Regions from separate parts of the Homo sapiens genome. Here all the other regions are linked to region 3. The links come from fine-mapping of genetic effects on gene expression. A gene starts in region 3. Each other region holds a variant in brackets. All regions are shown on one strand. Distances are between the middles of the regions.

The links. PIP is the estimated chance that this variant, and not a neighbour inherited with it, causes the effect.
Region 1: its variant is the best candidate, but not a certain one, in a credible set for the expression of ATOH8 in whole blood (INTERVAL, PIP 0.70).
Region 2: its variant is the best candidate, but not a certain one, in a credible set for the expression of ATOH8 in whole blood (INTERVAL, PIP 0.77).

What each region holds. Positions count from the first base shown.
Region 1 is chr2:85,696,882-85,703,727 of GRCh38, reverse strand. It overlaps GNLY (granulysin), which reads right to left. Exons shown (of 5, transcript NM_006433.5): 4 at 6,051-6,222; 5 at 4,876-5,164. The coding sequence ends at 5,154. Among named protein-coding and RNA genes, the nearest start is that of GNLY, 5.9 kb to the right of the region's middle. The variant C/T (reference allele first, on the strand shown) is at 4,310.
Region 2 is chr2:85,689,191-85,696,036 of GRCh38, reverse strand. It overlaps GNLY (granulysin), which reads right to left and starts at 1,679. Exons shown (of 5, transcript NM_006433.5): 1 at 1,567-1,679; 2 at 614-717; 3 at 1-79. The coding sequence starts at 1,618. The variant C/T (reference allele first, on the strand shown) is at 3,616.
Region 3 is chr2:85,750,633-85,757,478 of GRCh38, reverse strand. It overlaps ATOH8 (atonal bHLH transcription factor 8), which reads right to left and starts at 3,488. Exons shown (of 3, transcript NM_032827.7): 1 at 2,522-3,488. The coding sequence starts at 3,289. RefSeq lists a silencer at 6,599-6,819.

The DNA.
Region 1 (6,846 bases), 54 kb after region 3:
GATGGTGCCACTGCACTCCAGCCTGGGTGACTGAGCAAGACTCTGTTGAAGGAAGGAAGGAAGGAAGAAAGGAAGGAAGAAAGGAAGGAAGGAAGGAAGGAAGGAAGGTGGGAGGGAGGGAGGGAGGGAGGGAAGGAAGGAAAGAAAGAAAGAAAAGGAAGGAAGGAAGGAAAGGAAGAAGGAAGGGGAGAAAGAAAGAGAGAGAGACAGAAAGAAAAGCTGAAAGCCAAATACAGGGAGAAAATCTTGACAGCAGCAAAAGAAAAACAATTCATCACTTACAAGGGAACCCCCAATTATTAACAGGTGCCTCCTCATCAGAAACAGTGGAGTGCAGATGAGTCCAGATAGCAGTGGGGAAACACACCTCCAGGATAGACTATGTGGTAGCCCATAAAACAAACGTCAATAAATTAAAAAGGATAGAAAGAATACAAAATATGTTCCCTGACCACAACAGAATAAAACTAATAATCAGTAACAGAAACAAATTTGGGGAACTCACAAATATGTGAAAATTAAACAACACACTCCTAAATAACCAATGGATTAAAGGAAAAATCAAGAGGGAAATTAGAAAATACCTTGAGGTGAAAGAAAATGAAACCACAGCACACCAAAACTTACGGGTTGTAGCTTAAGCTGTGCCAAAAGGGAAATTTGTAGCTGTAAATGCCTATAATGAAAAAGAGGAAGATTTGAAATCTTCGTCTCAGAAATCCCATTTTAAGACAATGGAAAAAGGCTGGGTGCAGTGGCTCACATCTGTAGTCTCAGCACTTTGAGAGGCCAACGCAGGAAGATCATTTGATGCCAGGAGTTCAAACCCAGCCTGGGCAACATAGCGAGATCTATCTCTAAAAAAAAGAAAAGTAAATTAGCTGAGCATGGTGGCCTGTGCCTGTAGTCCTAGCTACTTGGGAGTCTGAGGCAGGAAGATTGCTTGAGCCCAGGAGTTCAAGGTTACAATGGAAAAAAAAAAAAGACATGAGAAAGAAGAGCAAATTAAACCTAAAGCAAGCAGAAAAAAAGAGATACTTAAAAAATTAGAGTGGAAATGTGGAAATTATTAAAATGGAGACTAGAAACAATATTTGAGAATACGAGATGAAATCAAAAGTTGGTTCTTTGAAAAAGCAAGTCTTTAGTTAGATTGACCACAATAAAAAGAGAGATGCTGCAAATTACTAGAATCAGAAATGAAGGAGGGGAAATTACAACTGACCTTACAGAGAGAAAAAGGATTATACTATTATGCTAATTAATTATGCTAATGCATTAGACAACTTAGAATGAAATGGGCACATTCCTACAAAGACACAAATGACTGAAACTGATGCAAGAGTAACAGAAAATCTGAATAGACCTATAATAAATAGGTTGAATTAGTCATCAAAACAATGACTCACAAAGAAAATACCAAGCCAGATGTCTTCATTGGTGAATTCTACCAAATATTTAAAGAATTAATACCAATTCTTCAGAAACTCTTCCAAAAACTAGAAGAGGATGCCCTGATGCCAAAACCAGGTGAAACCAGATGAAAACATCAAAAGAAAAAAAAAAACTACAGACCAATATCTCTTTTGAATATGGATACAAAAATTTTCAAAAAAAATTCTAGCAGGCTGAATCCTGCAACACATAAAAACAATTATATACCATGACCAGGTAAGATTTATCCAGAAATGCAAGGCAAATCAGCAACCAAAAGTCAAGTAATAAAATTCATCATATCAGTAAAATTAAAAATGAAAAACACATGATCCTCTCAATAGCACAGAACTATCATTTGACAAAATTTAACATCTCTTCATGATAATAGTCTCAACAGCAGGGGAATCACTTGGACCCAGGAACCTGGGAGGTAGAGGTTGCAGCAGCCACTGCACTCCAGCCTGGGGGACTGAGCGAGACTCCGTCTCAATAAAAAGGTGTTTCCACTTATGGCAGAAGAGAAAGGGAGCAAGTGTGTGCAGAGATCACATAGTGAGAAAAAAGAGAGAGAGGAGGTTTAACAAGCAGCTCTCACAGAAACTAATAGAGCAAGAACTCACTCATTACCACAAGAATGGCACCAAGCCATTCATGAGGGATCCTCCTCCCTGACTCATACACCTCCCACTAGGTCCCACCTCCAATATTGGGGATCACATGTCTTTTTTTTTTTTTTTTTGAGATGGAGTTTCGTCCTCATTGCCCAGGCTGGAGCGCAATGGCGCAATCTCGGCCTCCCAGGTTCAAGTGATTCTCCTGCCTCAGCCTCCCGAGTAGCTGGGATTACAGGCATGTGCCGCCACGCCTGGCTAACTTTGTATTTTTAGTAGCGATGGGGTTTCTGCATGTTGGTAAGGCTGGTCTTGAACTCCCAACCTCAGGTGATCCACCCACCTAGGACTCCCAAAATGCTGGGATTACAGGCATGAGCCACTGTGCCCGGCCAGGGATCACATTTCAACATGAAGTTTGAAAGTTGCATTCTTGCAACTTGCCATGGAGTTTGGAGATTACACCTTCCAAACCTCCCAGTGTAAACAGGAGCCCCTATTTACCCTTAAACAGGATTCTCCACTGTTAACACCTTACCACATTGCATGTATGTGGTATATACCTTATCACACTCATTCTTTGCGTATGTATTCCCTTTTTTTCTGAATCATTTCAGAAATTGTAATTGCAGATATGATGACCTATTACTCTTTGAATACCTTAGTGTATATTTTCTAACAAGGACACTGCCGTACATAACCATAGTACAACCATCAAAATCAGGAATTAACATTAACAGAATATTACCATCACAGATTCCAGTCACATTTTATAAATTGCCCCAATTATGTTCTTTATAGGTCTGGATCCAAATCAGGATCATGTGTCGCAATTTGTTGTCATGTCTCTTTAGTTTCCTTCTATCTGGAACAGTTCTTCAATCTTTACTTGTCTTTCAAGACCTTGGCATTTTTGAAGAGGACAGGCTAGAGTGCAGTGGCTCCCGCCTGTAATCCCAGCACTTTGAGAGGCCAAGGCAGGCAGATTACTTGAGGTCAGGAGTTTGAGACCAGCCTGGCCAACATGGTGAAACCCCTTCTCTAATAAAAAATACAAAATTAGCCAGCTGTGGTGATACATACCTGTAATCCCAAGCTACTTCAGAGGCTGAGGCAGGAGAATCACTTGAACCCAGGAGGCGGAGATTGCAGTGAGCCCAGATCGTGCCACTGCACTCCAGCCTGGGTGACAGAGCCAGACTCAGTCTAAAATAAAAAATTTTTAAAAAATTTTTAAAAAAAGGATATGCTAAGTATTTTGTAAAATGTCAGTTTGAGTTGCTCTGATGTTTCCTCATGATTTTTGCATTTCGGCAGGAACAATGGAAAAGTAGTATTATATTTCTCTCAGAGCATTATATTATGAGGCCCATGATATTGACTTGCCCCATGGGAGGTGGGAGTAACTTTCATCAGCTGACAGGCTTCTCCACTGTCAGGTTAACTAATAATGGAATGTATTAATTAATATCAAATTAGTGAGCCAGGCGCAGTTCTGCACACCTGTAGTCCCAGCTACTCTGGAGGCCTAGGTGGAAGTATCCCTTGAGGCCAGGAGTTTGAGGCTACAGTGAGCTAAGATCATGCCTGAGAAGGGCCACTGCACTCCAGCCTGGGAAACAAAGTGAGACTCTGTCTCTAAAGAATAAATAAATAAATAAATAAACACTTTTAAAAAATCAAGTTAGTATATGATATACTCACTATACCAAATATGTTAGTAGGATATACTTTGCAACTATGTCTACATTTATTAACTGTAATTGTATTGTAAGGTAGCACGTTTCCTTTTCCCTTGTTTATTTATTCATGTATTATTTGTATTTGTATGAATTCATGGATTCTGCTTTATTCAATGGATTACGATCTGTTCTTGTCATCATCTATTCTGAGGCTCAAATAGCCCCAGATTTGGCCATCGGTAGTCCCCTTGAACAGCTTCTTTGATTGAACCCAGAATAACACACCATACTCCTTGGGTGGCCAGCATCCATTTTTCCCTCTTCCCACCAACAGTAGCCCAGATTTTCATGTTTATTGTCAACCAAGTGATTGGGTTGAGATGGACCCCACCTCAGCTCCAGGGGTGTGCCCTGCTTAGCTTAAGCCAATCAGTGTACCCCATTATTCTCCAGGACACAGTGATTGGTCTGAGGGTGGGCAAATGACCTGTGAGAACTGGCCAATGAGAACTGAGGAGATAGCTGATAGGCCTTCTGGGAAAGAAGCTTCCTATTTCTTTCCAAGGGAGCTCTCTCTCC[C/T]TCTGATGGAGGCACTGTAAAGAGGTGAAGTGTGGACCTGATGAAGCCATTTCTGCTGCCAAGAGAGAAGCGAACCTGAAGACAATTTCAATATACAGAGGTCGGGAGAACGAAAAATTGCAATAAAACAGGACTGGGGCTCTGCTGACGCCACACATTTCTGGATCATTCTGTGCCTGAACATACCCGTGGACTGGTTAATTATTTGAACCAGTAAATTATCTTTTTTGATTAGGCCAGAATGGGCTGAGACTTCTGTTGCTTGCAACCAAAAGGGCCCTAAAAGATACACTCCCCCGAAACCGCAAAGGAAGGCTGCCTGTCGCAAGAAGCAAGAGGATGGGTTTCTGTTCCTTTTCACCAAAAACAAAACAAAAACACCTCTAACCCTGCTGGTCTATCCCACTGGTCTGAGAGCTTCTGGGGACATCGCCACTGTGTGCCTTGGCCTTTCTGAATAACGCATGGCTGTGGTGAGTGCTCAGTAAGCATTTCACGACTAACTGTGTGAATGCTGTTAAGGTTGTCTCGTTCACCACTAAATCCATAACATCTACAACAGTGTATGGGACACACGACAGACATTTATTGAAGGACTACACAGCTCACCCCAGCATGCCACTGACACCCACCCCTCAAATCCACCAAAGAAGAAGCAGCTGCGGCTAAAATCTTGCTTGACACTTTATTCTCGTGAGAGGGGAGGACAGCAGAGGGAGTCAGGGGAGGGAGACTGGAGAGTGGATTCTGGATCGAGGAAGCGAGGAGCCGGCAGAGGTTGCTGAGGTTCCCGGGATCTGAGGACAGGAGCCTGTGCTTCTTCCACAGGACAAGGTGAGAGGGCTCAGAGGGGACCTGGAGAGGAGAGAACAGCCAGCTGTGGGCAGATGTGGTGGGTCCTCAAGGAGAAGCAGGCACTCAGAATGTTACTTGCTTAAGGTCCCAGAGCCACCTGACCCTACTGAACACACCCAGAGGCACATCCTGGAAGCCAGTCGGCAGCCTGAGCAGGTTGTGGGGCCTTGAATAGAAAAGCCACAAGCTCCAATGACAGGAAATGGTGGGGACCCCCGATCTGCCAGCATAAAATCCCAGAGCATTGGCAAGTGCCAGCTGAGCTGCCAGAGCCAATCACCGAGGCCCCTTTCTGGCCCCATTTCCTACAGCCGAGATCTGTTCTCTCCAGGCACAGCCTGGGCAGCCATGGAGGGAAAGGCCTCATGCTCCCCTGCCTGAAGGGTTCCCTAGCCCAGATCTCAGGGCCCAGGATTGTGGGGGAGGATATGGCCCCAGCTCCCGACCCCAGGGGCCTGTGCTGGGCTGGGATTGGAGTTTGACTGAGGGTCTGATGACCTTGAATAGCCTCAGTCTGAGGACATTTCCCCAGGGTCAGGTCCACACACACGGTGACCTCCTTCAATTCTCATTCCAATCTCAAAAATCAGGATTGCTATCTCCCCTTCACAGATGAAGAAACTGAAGCTCAGAGAGGTCAAGTTATTTGCTTAAGGTCACACAGCCAGGGAGAGATGGAGACCAGATTTTACTCCACGACCACCTGTGTCTGAAGCCCAAGCTCTAATCAGTATTTCTCAAACATTTCTAGCTAAAGTCCATCTGCTCAATTCTCCACACTTTCCCAAGCTGGGAGATGGGGGAGTAAGGAGGCAGCTTTGATATATCCTGGGGGAAGCTGTCTCCAACCCTCAGGAGGTATCCCTGCTGTCACCTCTGCACTCACCTGTAGAAGGTATACACAACCTGAGGTCCTCACAGATCTGCTGGGCAGTTTCTCCGGCCACGAGGCCCTGGGTAACTCTAGACTGATACCTCCTCATGAAATTTCTGCAGACGTCGCGCCATCGTGACCTCCCCGTCCTACACACCCGGGTCGCAGCATTGGAAACACTTCTCTGCAGCAGCAGCACCACAGTGGACATGGTTATAGGGTGAGTCCTGCCCAGCTCTGCCACCCTGCAGGTTCCAGCAGCCCTAGCAATGGGAGTACTGGGTGCGAGGAGCTGGCACCTGGTGCCCATGGGGCCAGAGACTGTACAGACGGGGCTCAGCCCCTACTCCCAGTCCCCAAGGCCTGGCCCAAGACTGGCCAGGTAGGGCTCCTGAGACAAGGACAGTTAGCCCTGCTGGGGTCTCAGCGCCTTGTGCACCTGTCCCCTGCCTTCTGTGTGGAGAATGGTGCCCATGGCTGCCAGGCACACATTAAATGCTCTGCCATGTAGCTACCTGGGTCCAGGACCTGGCTGGGGGCTCCAGATAGAGGGGGTGCATAGAGAAGACTGGTGGGGTGGGAGGTGTGGTCAGAGCTTGGAGTCTTGGCTCATTTGGTTTTAAAGTCTCTTCTATGCCATCCCAGGGGAGGAGGATGAATCTGGGTATCCAGGGCTAAGTGCGAGCCTGCAGTGCCAGGATGCTGAGTAGTTTGGGGCAGCAGAGGAGAGGGAAGGAGGGAGAGTGAAACAATAATTCTTGGTAGTAACACAGTCATTCGTTAAGCATTTACTCAGTGCTGGACGTGG
Region 2 (6,846 bases), 61 kb after region 3:
TCTTCTTCAGTTTTTGGACTATCGTCAGACAGGTCCTGTAGTCACGGCCCAGCTCCTGTGTTTTGGTCAACAGGTCACCCTGTCAGGAAAGAAAGCCCTTATGATGGTCTCTCAGACACTCTGGGAGCGCGTGAAAGTGCCCAGGAAAGGGGCCCTTTGTGTTTCTGAGGCCGGCAGGAATGTCCGTGATCTCTTCCCAGAGCGTGGATACACTGAAGGCCTGAACTGGCTGCCTGGCCCCTGCCCACCCTTTTGCTTGTCTTAGAGGCTCTGAGACACCCCAGAAACAGCCTCCCACACCCCCAGTACTTTCCCAGCCCTGCACTTGCCCCTCTCCTATTGAGGAACTCCCAGGGGAGTCTGCCTATTTGGGTTCTGCAGCCCCAGGCTCCTTGGAGGGTGAGACCCCAGAGGATCCTCCTGGAGGAGTCTGCCAGATACCTGTAGCCCTCCTGGCCAGACATGAATTCAACAAAACCAGCATCGTCAGAAACAGCCCAGCCTCCACTCCCACCTCCTGACCATTAGAGAGCTCCAGACCTCACCCCAGGAGCCACCAGGGAGGAGGGAAAGGAGAGGGACTGTGGCAGGTGAGCAGAGAGCCAACACGTACCTGGGGGCCCTCCTGGGCCAGGCACGGGCAGGATTTCTCCTCATCACGCAGGTGGGCTCTTGCCAGGTCGTAGTACTCAGGGCTCAGACGAGAGAAGACCAGACCTGAGGAAGACCAGACTTCAGCTTCCCCTCCGCAGGCGGAAGGAGAGGGAAAGCCCGTTCTCCTGGCTGGTGGGAGTCCAGGAGGTGACCAGGGCCTAGGACAGGAGCTGGGCCTTGCAGGGGGCCAGGATACCTGTCCACATGCTTTGCCCTGGAGCCGCTCTGACCCACTCTCAGCACAAACACGTGTTCTCACGTTCCTTCTAGAAAGCCAGGAGGGCGAGACTCTCTCTTCTCCTCTGTTCCCCCAGCAACACAGATTTGGGGGTCGGTTTGTCTAGAAACTTCCCTCAATCTCCTTTCAAGGGATTTTCTTTTTTTACCTTCCATCCAGATGGCCCAGCCAAATCCACTCTCCCTTCCAGAAGTGTTCTTGCCCTTGGGGCTCACACTGACCTCAAGGCCTGGGAGAGAGCAGGGTGCAGGGGGCAGGAAGTCTGCCTTGAACACAGAAGAGATCTTGTTCTCTCACCAGCCCCGCACAATCCTAGACAGTGTAGGCCCGAGGAAACGCAGATCCACCGATGAGGGCCAATGGCCTTCACCACGCAGATGCGGAGGCAGGGGCTTGGGAGGGAAAGGGGGGTCTCAGGCCACACAGTGTGGCCAGTAGAGTTAGGACCAGAATCCCTGGCCTGTCTCTCCTCCTTGGCCAGGCCAGTGACAGGCTGGGCAGCACACTGGACTAAGCCTGGCTCTGAGGGGAGGCCAGGCCTCCATGACGGGGGAGAAGGCCGGGGGGAGGCAGGGGCACCTGGGTGCCCACAGAGTCCAAGCTCCAGGTTCAGCCAGCCTGAGAGTGCGAGGCTGGGTGGGCCATCAGGATCGATCCCGAGGGGAAGGCCTTACCTGGGTTGCCCAGGAGCATGGCTGCAAGGAGCAGGAGGGCCCAGGTAGCCATGGTGGGGCAGCCGCTGAGATGCCTTTCACACCCTGTTTTATGGGCAGGGAGCCTGCAGCTTAATCTTTCTCAGGTCCTGCCCTTTTTGTATGTCATCTCCCCCGTGTCACTGGGTTTACCACAGATACAAATACCAGTGTGTGAAGAAGCAGCTCAGGGCAGTGGTAGCCCACAGGGTCCATGCCACACCCCACTCCCACACAACTAGAATGTGGGGTTGCTGGAGGCCAGCAGCTGCCAGGATGCCTGGGATGTGCCGATGGAGGGAGAAACCCCTTAGTACAAGTACGTTCCAGATATTGCATGGGACATACTTATACTAAAAGTATAAGTGAGTCATCTCACTTGACCCAAAAACTATTTTTAAACAGCTTTTTAATTTAACAATATACCACGAACATCTTTCCACATTTGTAAATGTAGATCTTCTTCATCATTTCCCCTGGTTGCCTAATGGTTCCCTTTACACATGAACCATAGCTGGGGTCCTGTAACTCTGGGACTCGTGTCCCCTGTGGTACTTCGGCTTGAAGAGCAGAGGCTGGGAAGCCTCTCCAAGGGCTCACCCAGTAGTCAAGTTGAGTGATGTGAGGGCCTTCTTCAGACAGGGTGCCTCAGCATCTCAAAAAGGCAGCTGTAGCTCCTCCAGGCTACAAGGCCTGTTCACGTGGAAAATGGAAAGAGTGAAGCTGAAAGAGGTGGTACCTGTATAGGAAAAACATCTTTCCCAGGGACCCTCAGCCTCCATCTCATTGATCTGAACTGTGTCACATGATGACCCTGGCTGCAAAGGGCAATAGGAAGGGAGTCTTTTGCTGGACCTTCACTGACACTTTGCTTTTTGTTGTTGTTGTTTGTTTTTGTTTTGTTTTTCTTTTTTGAGACAGAGTTTCACTCTTGTCACCCAAGCTGAAGTGCAGTGGTGTGATCTTGGCTGATTGCAACCTCCACCTCCGGGTTCAAGTGATTCTCCTGTCTCAGCCTCCTGAGTAGCTGGGATTACAGGTGCACGCCACCATGCCCTGCTAATTTGTGTGTTTTTAGTAGAGACAGGGTTTCACCATGTTGGCCAGGCTGGTCTTGAACTCCTGACCTCAGGTGATCCGCCTGCCTCGGCCTCCCAAAGTGTTAGGATTACAGGCATCAGCCACCGCACCTGGCCTTCATTGACACTTCGAACAAAATTGATATCCTGCTAGGGAGGATGAGGGAATGGGAATCGTATAGGCAATGGCAGTGTCAGCTACCGCAGGACTTTTTTTTTTTTTTTCTGATACAAGTTCTTGCTCTGTACCTCAGGCTAGAGTGCAGTGGTGCAATCACAGATCACTGCAGCCTCAACCGCCCAGGCTCCAACAATCCCCCCACCTCAGCCTCCCAAGTAGATGAGACCACAGGTGCTTGCCACTACCACCCCTGCTGATTTTAAAATTTTTGGTAGAGATGGGTCTCCATATGTTGTCCAGGCTGGTCTCGAACTCCTGGACTCAAGCGATCCTCCCAGCCTCCAAAGTGCTGGGATTATAGGCATGAGCAACCACGCACGGCTTTGCAGGACTTTTTGATAAGGAAACATATTTCAGGAAGAATTGGTAGGACTTTGTACCTATATGATTACAAGAAAGAAAGAAGAGAGAGGAGGCAAAGGTTTTACTAGTATTTGGGGCCCAGGAGGCTGAGGGACTGGCTGTGAAAATTAGGAAAAGGAGCTTTCTGGTGAGAAGTTGAGTTTGAGGTATTGCATTTGTGGCTGTCTTGTTTCCCCAGCTGTAAATCAACTGCTTGAGAGCAGGGCTGCCTCTGCCTGTCAGGGTCTCCCCACCATGCCTAGAACAGCTCTCAGACCAACCGGCAAACTCGTTTTACCTCAGATGAGGAAACCAGGACTCAGAAAGATCCAGTGAATTACCCACCAACACACAGCTAGGAAGGGAATGGTCTGTGGATTTGAACCCAGACCCTACGACTCCAAAGCCCAAGTTTTCCCCCAGCCCTAC[C/T]CTAACTCAGTGTCCAGGTTTTCAGTGCAGGGCCACTTAACCCTCTTGAGGCCAGCTCAGGCACTACTCCCCCATCTGAGCAGACCCCCTCTCTCCTGACCACTTGTAGACCTTGGTCTCATGTGTGAAGACCACATTCTTGGGGGTAAAGGGTCTTGAAAGGTGACTCATGTCTCTTTATTGTGGGAAACTTGGTGAGACCAAACACTGCAGTAAGTCCTTGTCAGAGGTATTGAGGAGTACGTGGCAAAGCTCATGTAGTTAGTCACAAGCCTCCACCCAGGCCTCTGGGGTCCCGTGTGATAAGAACCTGGGGTAAGTTTTACCCAATTCCCACCCATGGTACCCCAGGAACTGGCCCATTGCAAGTCAGGCCCAGGCCCACAAAGAATTCCTCTGTGAAATATTGCCTTCTGCGGAGCTTGCAGTGAGCCGAGATCGCGCCACTGCACTCCAGCCTGGCGACAGAGCGAGACTCCGTCTCAAAAAAAAGAAAAGAAAAGAAATATTGCCTGCTGTATCTTCTTCAGGAAATCTTCACTTACGCTATCATAAAAATCACCTCTATGTTTTTTTCTAGAACTTTTATAATTTTAACTTTGACATTTAGGTCTATGACTCATCTCAAATTAATGTATAGTGTGAGCTGGGTTGAGGTTTTGTTTCTTCATATCAATTTCTTGAAAAGATTTTTCTTTTCCCATTGAATTGCTTTGGCACGTTGGTTGAATATCAATTGACTGTGGGTCTGTTTACGGACTCCTTATTATATCAACTGCTACTGCAATAATAATAATAAAGCAATCCAATTTTTTAAATGGGCAAAATATTTGAACAGGTAATTCGCAAAGGAAGATAAGAATGACCAAAACATTTGAAAACCTGCTCAACATCGTAAATCACAAAGAAATTCCTTTTTTTTTTTTTTGAGATGGATCCTCACTCTGTCGCCCAGGCTGGAGTGCAGTGGCGTGATCTCGGCTCACTGCCACCTCTGTCTCCCGGCTTCAAGCAATTCTCCTGCCTCAGCCTCCTGAGTAGCTGGGATTACAGGCACACACCACCAAACCTGGCTAATTTTTGTATTTTTGGTAGAGATGGGGTTTCACCATCTTGGTCCAGGCTGGTCTTGAACTGCTGATCTCAAGTGATTCACCCACCTCAGCCTCCCAAAGTGTTGGGATTACACGCATGAGCCACTGCGTCTGGCCAAGAAATTCTATATTAAAACTATACTGAGATGATGCATCAACATGACTAAAATTAAAAAGACAGAAAACCCAAATGCTGATGTGTCTGTGGAGCAACTGGTACTCTTAAGCATTGTTGGTGGGAATATAAAACACTAATAACTGAAAATTGGATTGACGGTTTTTCAGAAAGTTGAGCGTACACCTGCCCTGTGACTCAACAATTTCACTTCTATGTATTTACCCAAACTAAATGAAAACACCTCTACATACACAGATTTATACAAGAATGTTCACAGACATGTAACCCAGCAATTCCACTCCTAGGTAGACACCCAAAAGAAATAAAAGTAGATTGAAACAGATACTTGTACATCAATGTTCATAGAAGCATTATTCACAGTAGCCAAAAGATGGAAAGAGCCCAGGTGTCCATTGACAAATAAATGGATAAACAAGCCGGGCATAGTGGCTCACACCTGTAATCCCAGCACTTTGGGAGGCCAAGGTGGGAAGATGGCTTGAGGCCAGGAGTTTGAGGCCACCCTGAGCAACATAGTAGACCCCAGCTCTACAGAAAAAGTTAAGAATTAGCTGAGCATGGTGGCATGTGCCTGTACTCCCAGCTACTCAGGAGGCTGAGGTGAGAGGATTGCTTGAGCCCAGGAAGTCGAGGCTGCAGTGAGCCAAGGTCATGCCACTGCACTCCAGCCTGGATGACAGAGTGAGAGCCTGTCTCTAAGAAAAATTAAAATTAAAATTTTAAAAAGTGCATAAACAAAATGTGCTCTACATATACAATGGAATATGATTCAGCCTAAAAAGGGAACACAGTTCTGATACATACTACAACATGAATGAACCTTGAAATAATTATGCCAAGCGAAGTAAGCCAAACACAAAAGGATAAACATTGTATGATTCCACTTACATAAAATTTATAGAATAAACAAATTCATAGGGACAGAAAGTAGATTAGAGGTTACCCAGGGCTGGAAGGAGTGGGAAATGAAGGATTTAGTGCCCACTGGTTAGACTTTCCATTTGGGATGATGAGAATGGTTTTGGAAATCGATAGTTCCAAATAGATGATTCCACAATCTTGTGAGTATAATTAATGCCACTGGATTGTACATTTAAAATGGTTAAAATGGCTAATTTTGTCATTTATTTTTATTAATATTATTTTTAATTGACAAATCATAATTTTATATATTTATGGAGTACAATGTGATGTTTTGATATATGTATACCACTTGGAATGATTAAATCAAGGTAATTAACATATCTATCACCTCCGTTATCATTTTTTGTGGTAAACGTTTTATGTTATATGTATTTTACCACAATAGAAAAAAATTGTTTTAAAAGGTTGTTCAAAGAAAATGAAAAAAGGAAGAATGAATGAATAAATAAATAAATAAATAAAAGATTGTTTGCAGAAGCTTTTTCATAACAGCCAAAAATTAGACATAACCCAAATGTCCATCAACAGGTCAATGGATGAAGAAATTAAGGTAGAGCCATACAATATTATACATAACTACTTGGCAATAAAAAGGAATGAACTACTAATACAAGCAATAAAATGAATAAATCTTTAAAAAAAAAAAAAAAAAAGGAAAAAGAAGCCAGACACGAAAGACTACATTCTGTATGATTCCATTTGTATGAAGTTCTTGAGCAGCAAAATTCATCTATGGCAAAAGAAATCAGAAAAATGGTAGGAGGTGGGAGGAGGATGTGAGGGTTATTGGGCTGGCACAGGGGTATTTTTTTTAGATAGTGAAAGTGTTCTATATCTTAATTAGCTTGTGAATTGCATGAGTGTGCATCTATCAAAACTCTTCAAACTGGACACTTAAGACTTAAGCATTTTGCTAGATGTAAATTATACCTCAATTTAAAAATTATCCAAAAAATTATTATTATTATTATTTTTGAGAGGGAGATTCCCTCTTGTTGCCCAGGCTGGAGTGCAATGGCATGATCTTGGCTCACCGTAGCCTCCGCCTCCAGTATTCAAGCTATTCTCCTGCCT
Region 3 (6,846 bases):
TCAGGCGGAGCTGATCTGCCTTTTGTCCATTTCCAAGGACCCATTTCAGTCAGGCCCGAGCCTAGCTCCAGAGCTGCAGCTCGTCTGGATTCGGGGAGGGGGTGCGGAGTACATTTTACAGAGAAGACTGAGGCCCAGAGGAGGAAGGGGCTCCTCCAGAACACAGGACTTCCTCTATCGAATGGGTGCCATGGTGGTGAGGAGGACATGGTGGGTGTGGCCTTGGCCCCTGGTTCTATGACCAGAAACGTCCTGGCTGTATTTCTTTCCTTCCCAGCTAACAGGCAGGTGCCCACTATGGCCTGGCAGCCTTTCTGGGGAAGGGGCAGAATGGCTAGGGCAAGGAGGAAACAAACAGGAACAGGTGCTTCTGTGACCATGCATTTGTGTGTGCTCTTGAGCACGTGTAAGGAGCATGTGTGTGTGTACCTGCCTGTGTGTTTGCATTGCATACACACGCTCTCCCTGAGAGGGCATGGGTGTGCCTTCTACTTAGATACACTGAACTTGCCCTTTTTATAGAGAACTTCCCACGGTAAGGGGGGAAGTAAAAGGAGACCAGGATGAACAATCTCATCTCAAAGGGTCTGCCAAGTGTGCACCCTGCCTTGATTGTTAACAAACATCACAGGCTGGGGGCTGGGGGGGTGGCACATGACGCTGATACAGATGGCACTGTGGGAAGCATTTGGCCAGGAGGGCATTCCAGAAACTGCTGTTATCTTCCCTAACCCACTAGGTGACCTTGGACAAGTCTCCTTCCATCTCTGGGCCTCAGTGTTCCATACTATAAAATGAGTTAATCCAATTTCGACAGGGATTATGTTTAGATCAAATGAGATGGAATTGATTGTTGAATGAAGTAAAAGTCAGTGGGCACATGAGATGTAACAAAGCACTCAGATGAGTATTCTCTCAGCATACAGAGGCAATAGAGGAGCACAAGGGCCCAGAACCTGCAGTCAAAGCCCCTAGGTGCCAGCCCTGACCTGCTACTCAACAGCTATGAGGCTCTGGGCACGTGCCTCCCCAGTCTAGGAGGGGCTTCCCTAGTGGCAAGGTGGGCAGGTGGACAGGCATCTCTCTGCCCTTCTGTTATCCTTCTGTCCTGGGGAGTGGGTTGCAGGATCCCCCACGCACCGCCACCTCTACCCAGCGATGCAGACACAGAGCTGCTGGCTCAGGGTGGGACTGACTGCTCCACTGGACCCACCGCCCAGGGTTCCAGCTGGTGTGGATGAGGGCAGAGGCCCAGCCTGGTCTGTGACAGCCACCCGTCCCCCACCCCCACCCCCACCCCACCTCACTGACCACTTTCCCCAAGCCCAAGCAAGACACTTTGGCTCAAAAGTCATAGGGCCTCTTTCCTCCAAGGATTCAATTTCCTTTCCATGGATGGACACAGGCACTACTGCCCCACCCCACCCCAACCCCCAGCAGGAAGAGGAGAGTGATCCAAAAAGAAGATCATGGTTTCTGAAATGTTTTGTTGCTGGATAAAGCCCAGAGAAGTTGAGCAACATTCCTGGAGTCACACAGCAAGTCAGCTGCAGAGTATGCAAATAAAAAGAAAAAAAAAACACCCTTCAAACCAGCCACATCTACCCTAACCCTTCCCCACGCCCTGTGTGGGGGTGGGAGAGAACTCACCACCTCCTTCCTAGAGCTCCTTCTCGCTAAGAAAATAAGAAGCCTAGAAGCCCAAGCGATTGTCCCGCCCCACCACGGGTAATTCTTGGGTTAAGTATTCTTCCGCTACCTGCGCAGGGGCACTGTCTGGTGAGGGCAGCCCGCACCAGCCCCAAACTAAAAAGTCCCGGACCCACCCCAGAACTAGGCTCTGAAGATGCTCCAGAGGGAATCCCCAACCTAGGCAGTCCCCTCGGCAGAGCTGCCTGCTTCACCACGGGTGAAAGGAAGGGATCTGCTAGAAAGACTCCCACCAGCCGATTCCTGAGCCCACCCCTGGGGAGAGGGCACAGGCTTGTAGCGCGGGTTCTTGAGGATGCCAGGGCAAGGAGTGCATAGCCCGGAAGCAACCTGAGTGTTCGGGGCATCACCGCTGGGGCCTGAAGAGGGGCTGACAACTCCCCCGGACTGTCCCACCGCAGCGTTCCGGACCTTGCCACCACCAACTGGAGAAGGCTCCCCCCTTCCTCCGCTGACAGATTCCCACATTTCCCCTCTCCACTCCGCACCGCGCCCAGGGGACTCCGGCAGGCAAATACTCGCTGCCATAAAAGTGAACTATGGAGGCTGAAGTCAGAAGCGCAGACAGCGTTACCCCCGAGGCGGGGGTTGAGGGCGGGGGGTGCTCGGGCCAGAGATAACCAACTCTTATAGCCACTTTGAAAACTATGATCCATACCCTAGGACTGCCCACACCTGTCTGGGCACCAGGGTCGGACCGGGCGGGGCAGCTTGCCCCTTAAACACACCTCTATCCCGCCCCGGCCACTCGCCCACCCATTCCCGCAGTCGTCCCCCGGCGCAGTGAGGGCGTGCGGCGGCGAGCGGGTACCTGCTTCCTGAGCGCCTCGAAGGCTGCGCTGATGGTGTGCACCCGCGTCCGCTCCCTGGCGTTCGCCAGGAGCCTCCGGGTCTGCTGCAGGGCTTTGATCTCGGAGGAGGCGGCAGTCGCTTCGCCCGGTCGTTTCCTAGGCGACGCGGAGGAATCCTGGTGGTTATTGTAAATTACGTGTGAAATTGACGAGTAGGAACTTTCCCCGGGGCGCGTCGGGGGCGCAGGGCGCACAGTGGACTCCGGGGGCGCTGGCGGTGCTGGGGGTGCTGACGGCGCGGGGCGCGCGGGCGGTGCGCACAGCAAGATGCGAGGACGCAGACCCGGCTCCCGGAAAGGCTGTGCCTCTGGGCCCCCAGGTGCCTGGCTCTGGGGCGCAGGAGGCGGCGGCGGCGGCGGCGTGGGGAGTCCTGGCCCCACTGCGCCTAGGGCGAAGCAGCGTTTCCGCGCGTCGGAGACCTCGGGCGCCCGAGAGCCCCCGCGCTCCCCGGCTGTGTCCGTGCCCCCTCTTGGGGGAACGGCCGGCGCCACTGGGACTGGCACCGGCACCGGTACCGGGACCGGCTGCAGCCGATGGGTCCTGTCCCGCAGCCCGTTGGTGGCTACGGCGCGGGGCTCGGGCGCTTCCAAGTCCAGTCGGAAAGTTTTATAGCCGTTCGCGCGCCGCGCCGGCTCCTTGCCTTTCCGCTTGAGCTTCTTAAGGCCGTTCAGCTCCTTCACGCACACGGTCTTCCACGGCCCGTCCTCGAGGACCGGGATGTGCTTCATGGCGCGGGCGGCGCGCGAGGCAGGGGCGTGGGGCTGCCCGGGCCGCCGCCGCGCTCAGCGCCGAGGAGTCTCTGGCTCTCCCGCTTCGCCCGCCCTCCCCCTCCCTCTCTCCCTTTCTCCCCCTCGCCCCGGGCAGCTGCGCCGCCGGCTTCGGGAAGCCGCCGGGCTGTCCGTTCCCGGAGCGCTCAGAGTGTCATCTGAAGTCGCTGCCTCCTTGCCAGCATTTCTGGAGAACGCCCGCTGCGCTCCATCTGTGTTTGTTTAGCCTCAGTTTACACAGAAGCCCAGTTCGCGAGATCAGTCAGCGCCGCCGCCCGGAGAGGAGGCAGCTCCCGCCGCCACCGCCTCCCCAGCCCGGGCCGCCCGAGCCGCGAGCGCCTTTAAAGAAACAGGAAGCATTTTTCAAAACAGCTGGGCCGCCGGCCGCCTCCTTTGTCCGCGGGCTCCCTACCTCCCCCCCACCCCCATCCCCTTGGCCCAGAACCTGCCTCCTCCGGCGCTCCCTCCCCGCCCCTACTCTAGTCGGGGGCGCTTCTATGTTCCCAGAGGACAGTCCGCTCCTGCACAACCGCCCCGAGCACGTGACTTATGGGCCCCCGGCCCTTCCCCAAATCACAGCGGGGCCTTTTCTCCCTGGCCTTGCCGGCCTCTCGGTGACGCAGCTCCGACCTTGCCCACCCGGCACCTTCCCGCCGCTCCCTCCGCCCCAACTCGCCACGAGACAGAAAACGCCGGGAGCTGGGACTTCTGCTGGGGGCCGATGGGGAAGGGGAGACTCCGGAGTTGCCCGGCGACCCACACCCGCCCGGCACGGCAACCCAGTCCACTCTCACTTGCTGGAGCGGGAAAGCAAGAGGAGCAGAGGGCTTAAGACAGGGAAACTGAGTTTCCGAAAGCTCCAAAGTCACGCAGCAAGTCACAGAGGCAGAGGAGGGTGGAAGCTTCGGATTTAGGCAGACCTAACGTCTGCGAGCCTCCGCAGTCACCTCACTCCAGGCGCCCTGCTAAACCGGGATTTACTCATCTGTGAAATGAGAAATTCGGAGAACAACGCCTAAGTCACAGCATTGCTCTGAGGAATTAAAGCACTAGGCACATAGGAACGGGTCGTCAAATGGTAGCTGTGGTTGTTGTTAGTATTATTTATTGAGGCAAAACAGCTACTTGAGGCAGATTTCCTGGGCTCAAACCCCAGCTCTGCCACTCACTGAATGACCTTGGGAAAGTCACTTAACCTCTCTGTGCCTCCCTTTCCTCACCTGTAAAACGAGGGTCATAATCGTACCTTCCTCCCCAGGCGGTGTGAAAAGCGTGTATGCGCAAGGCACTCAGAGCAGTGCCTGGCACCAGGTGAGAGCTTTGCAGGTGCCCACGGTTATTGGCAAGGGGCAGAGGTAGACCCCCCAGACCCTCAGTCATCAGTGCCATTCCACTGGAGATTCTGGAAAGAAGGGGTCAAACTAGTAGGCCCTCAGATGTCCTTGCCAGAGGACTGCTTCCCAGCCGCTCCCTTCCGAGGCTCAGAACAGGGCTTCACTCCTTGCTGGTCCCTTCTCTGTGACTGTTACTCCTTAAGGAAGGTGGACACTAAAAGCCAGCAAGGTGGTTTGGGAGAAGATGGACCCTTGACCCTGGCCTTGAACTCTGATGAAAACACAAGGGCTCACACAGAGTGGAGTGCTTCTCTCCTCCATGGGAGAATGCCTAGGGGTGGAGGAGGCAGATGGCACGCAGGGTGCTGGGAGGTGGGATGGGGATCTGGGCATAGCTTTGGGGGCAGGAGCATGGAGCTCCAGCCAGCAGCCCCGGTTGAGCCTTGGTTTGTCAACGACGGAACCCCATGACCACGAGCAAGACGTTTCCTCCCACCGTCACTCTTTTCTGTCTTTGAGGATATTTCCAGCCAACCTTCTCAGGGTAGCTGGGAAAGGACAAAGAGATGGATGTCAAAGGACTTTGACATAAGACTTCAAACATAGACACACACACACACACACACTGAGGCATGCAGTTTTCTGAATATAGTAAATGCAAAATCTCATTTTGCCACCAAGGTGGGTGCCAGCATCATAAAGCATGTGCTCCCGGAGACATCGTCTTCCCTGGACACCTGCATATTCCTGCACCTTATCTCTGTCCTGGAGACCAGGTGTGTGCTGCCAAAGAGGAGCCCTCATTCTCCTGTCGTTTCCCTGCTCAGCCTCGAACCCTAAAGTTCTGGCCTTTGCTCCCAGGTCTCCCACGGCTCCCCTTTGCAACGCACACTCTTCCTCACCCTTCGATGAACAGCTCCGGTCCCCCTCCTCCCGCGAACCTTCCCTGCTCACCATAGCCTCCAATTGCTCTTGCTGGCCTGTGTGCATGCTTGCTCAAAAGTCCTGCTGCAACTTAGCCTCCACTGCAGCCCTGTTGGAACTCCTGGGCTTGTGCGTTCCTCAAAGGCGCACTCTTGCCTTCCTCCCTGTCTCTAAAGGCTGGTGCTCAGGAAACCTCTGATAAGGACAAGCAACCCTCGTGCCCTTTACACTCCTGTCTGGAGACCCAGTCCTCCTGTGCATCCAGCCAGTCAGTGGCAGAGATGGAGGAAAAGTGACACTCCTTCTCCAGGGCTGCTCAGGTACTCTCTGAGCTTCAGTAGCTTCCTCTGTAAAACGGGAGTAATGATACCGTGCCTCACACGGCTGCAAGGACTCAAAGACGCAGCATGTGCAGCATGTGGCATGATGCCTAGAGTCTAGGGAATGGTGACCTTGGGCATCCTGGGTCAGCCAGCTGCTAAGGCCCCCTTGCATCCCAGACTTGGGTGTAGCTGAAGACTGGGGTGCCCGTGGCTGGTGAGGTTGTGTGAGAAGTCTCTAGCAGGACTGAATTTTGTCCTTAAAGAGGCCAAGCTGTGTCTGGGAAAATCACATCTTGGCTGAATACCAAAGGATCCACTCATACTGATCCTAAGCCCCGTGCCAACTTCCCCCCAAATAGAGGAGAAGGTCACCGAGATCCCATGGGGCAGGAGGAGGCGAAGGGATTGGATAGGAATGATCAGCCATGCAGGGTGGAGGTAGAGCAGGGCTCCAAGCCGGGCTACAGGCTTCCAGACAGGCTCTTTCTCCTCAACATGCTGCCTCTCCCGCTGGCCAAATGCCAGGGCCCCAGAGTTGGCAACAGGCAAGCCCAGAGGGATCTTCACCTTGTCACGTACCAGGTGTGTGACCTTGAGCAGCTCCCTGACTTCTCTGAGCCTCTGTTCACTATCTGGGCATCATCTCTTGAGTCTTGAGATGGAATGGTGTGTGTGGGAACAGGCGACAAATTGTAAAGAGGCCGATTGATGTGGAGTCCCTGCTATTGCCATTGTCAGCCTGCCAGGTTGCAGACCTTCCAGGTCCAGGCTGGCTGCCCACGCCCCACCAGCCTAGGGGTCAAACCTGTCTTCCAAGGGCTCTCACTTCTGCCTTCCTCAGCCTTGCTGAGAATTGGGGCAGAGACCAGCTGGGCAGCACCCCCTGGTGGTATCACACTATTGGGACTGCACACAACACTGCGGTCTCCCCATGAGG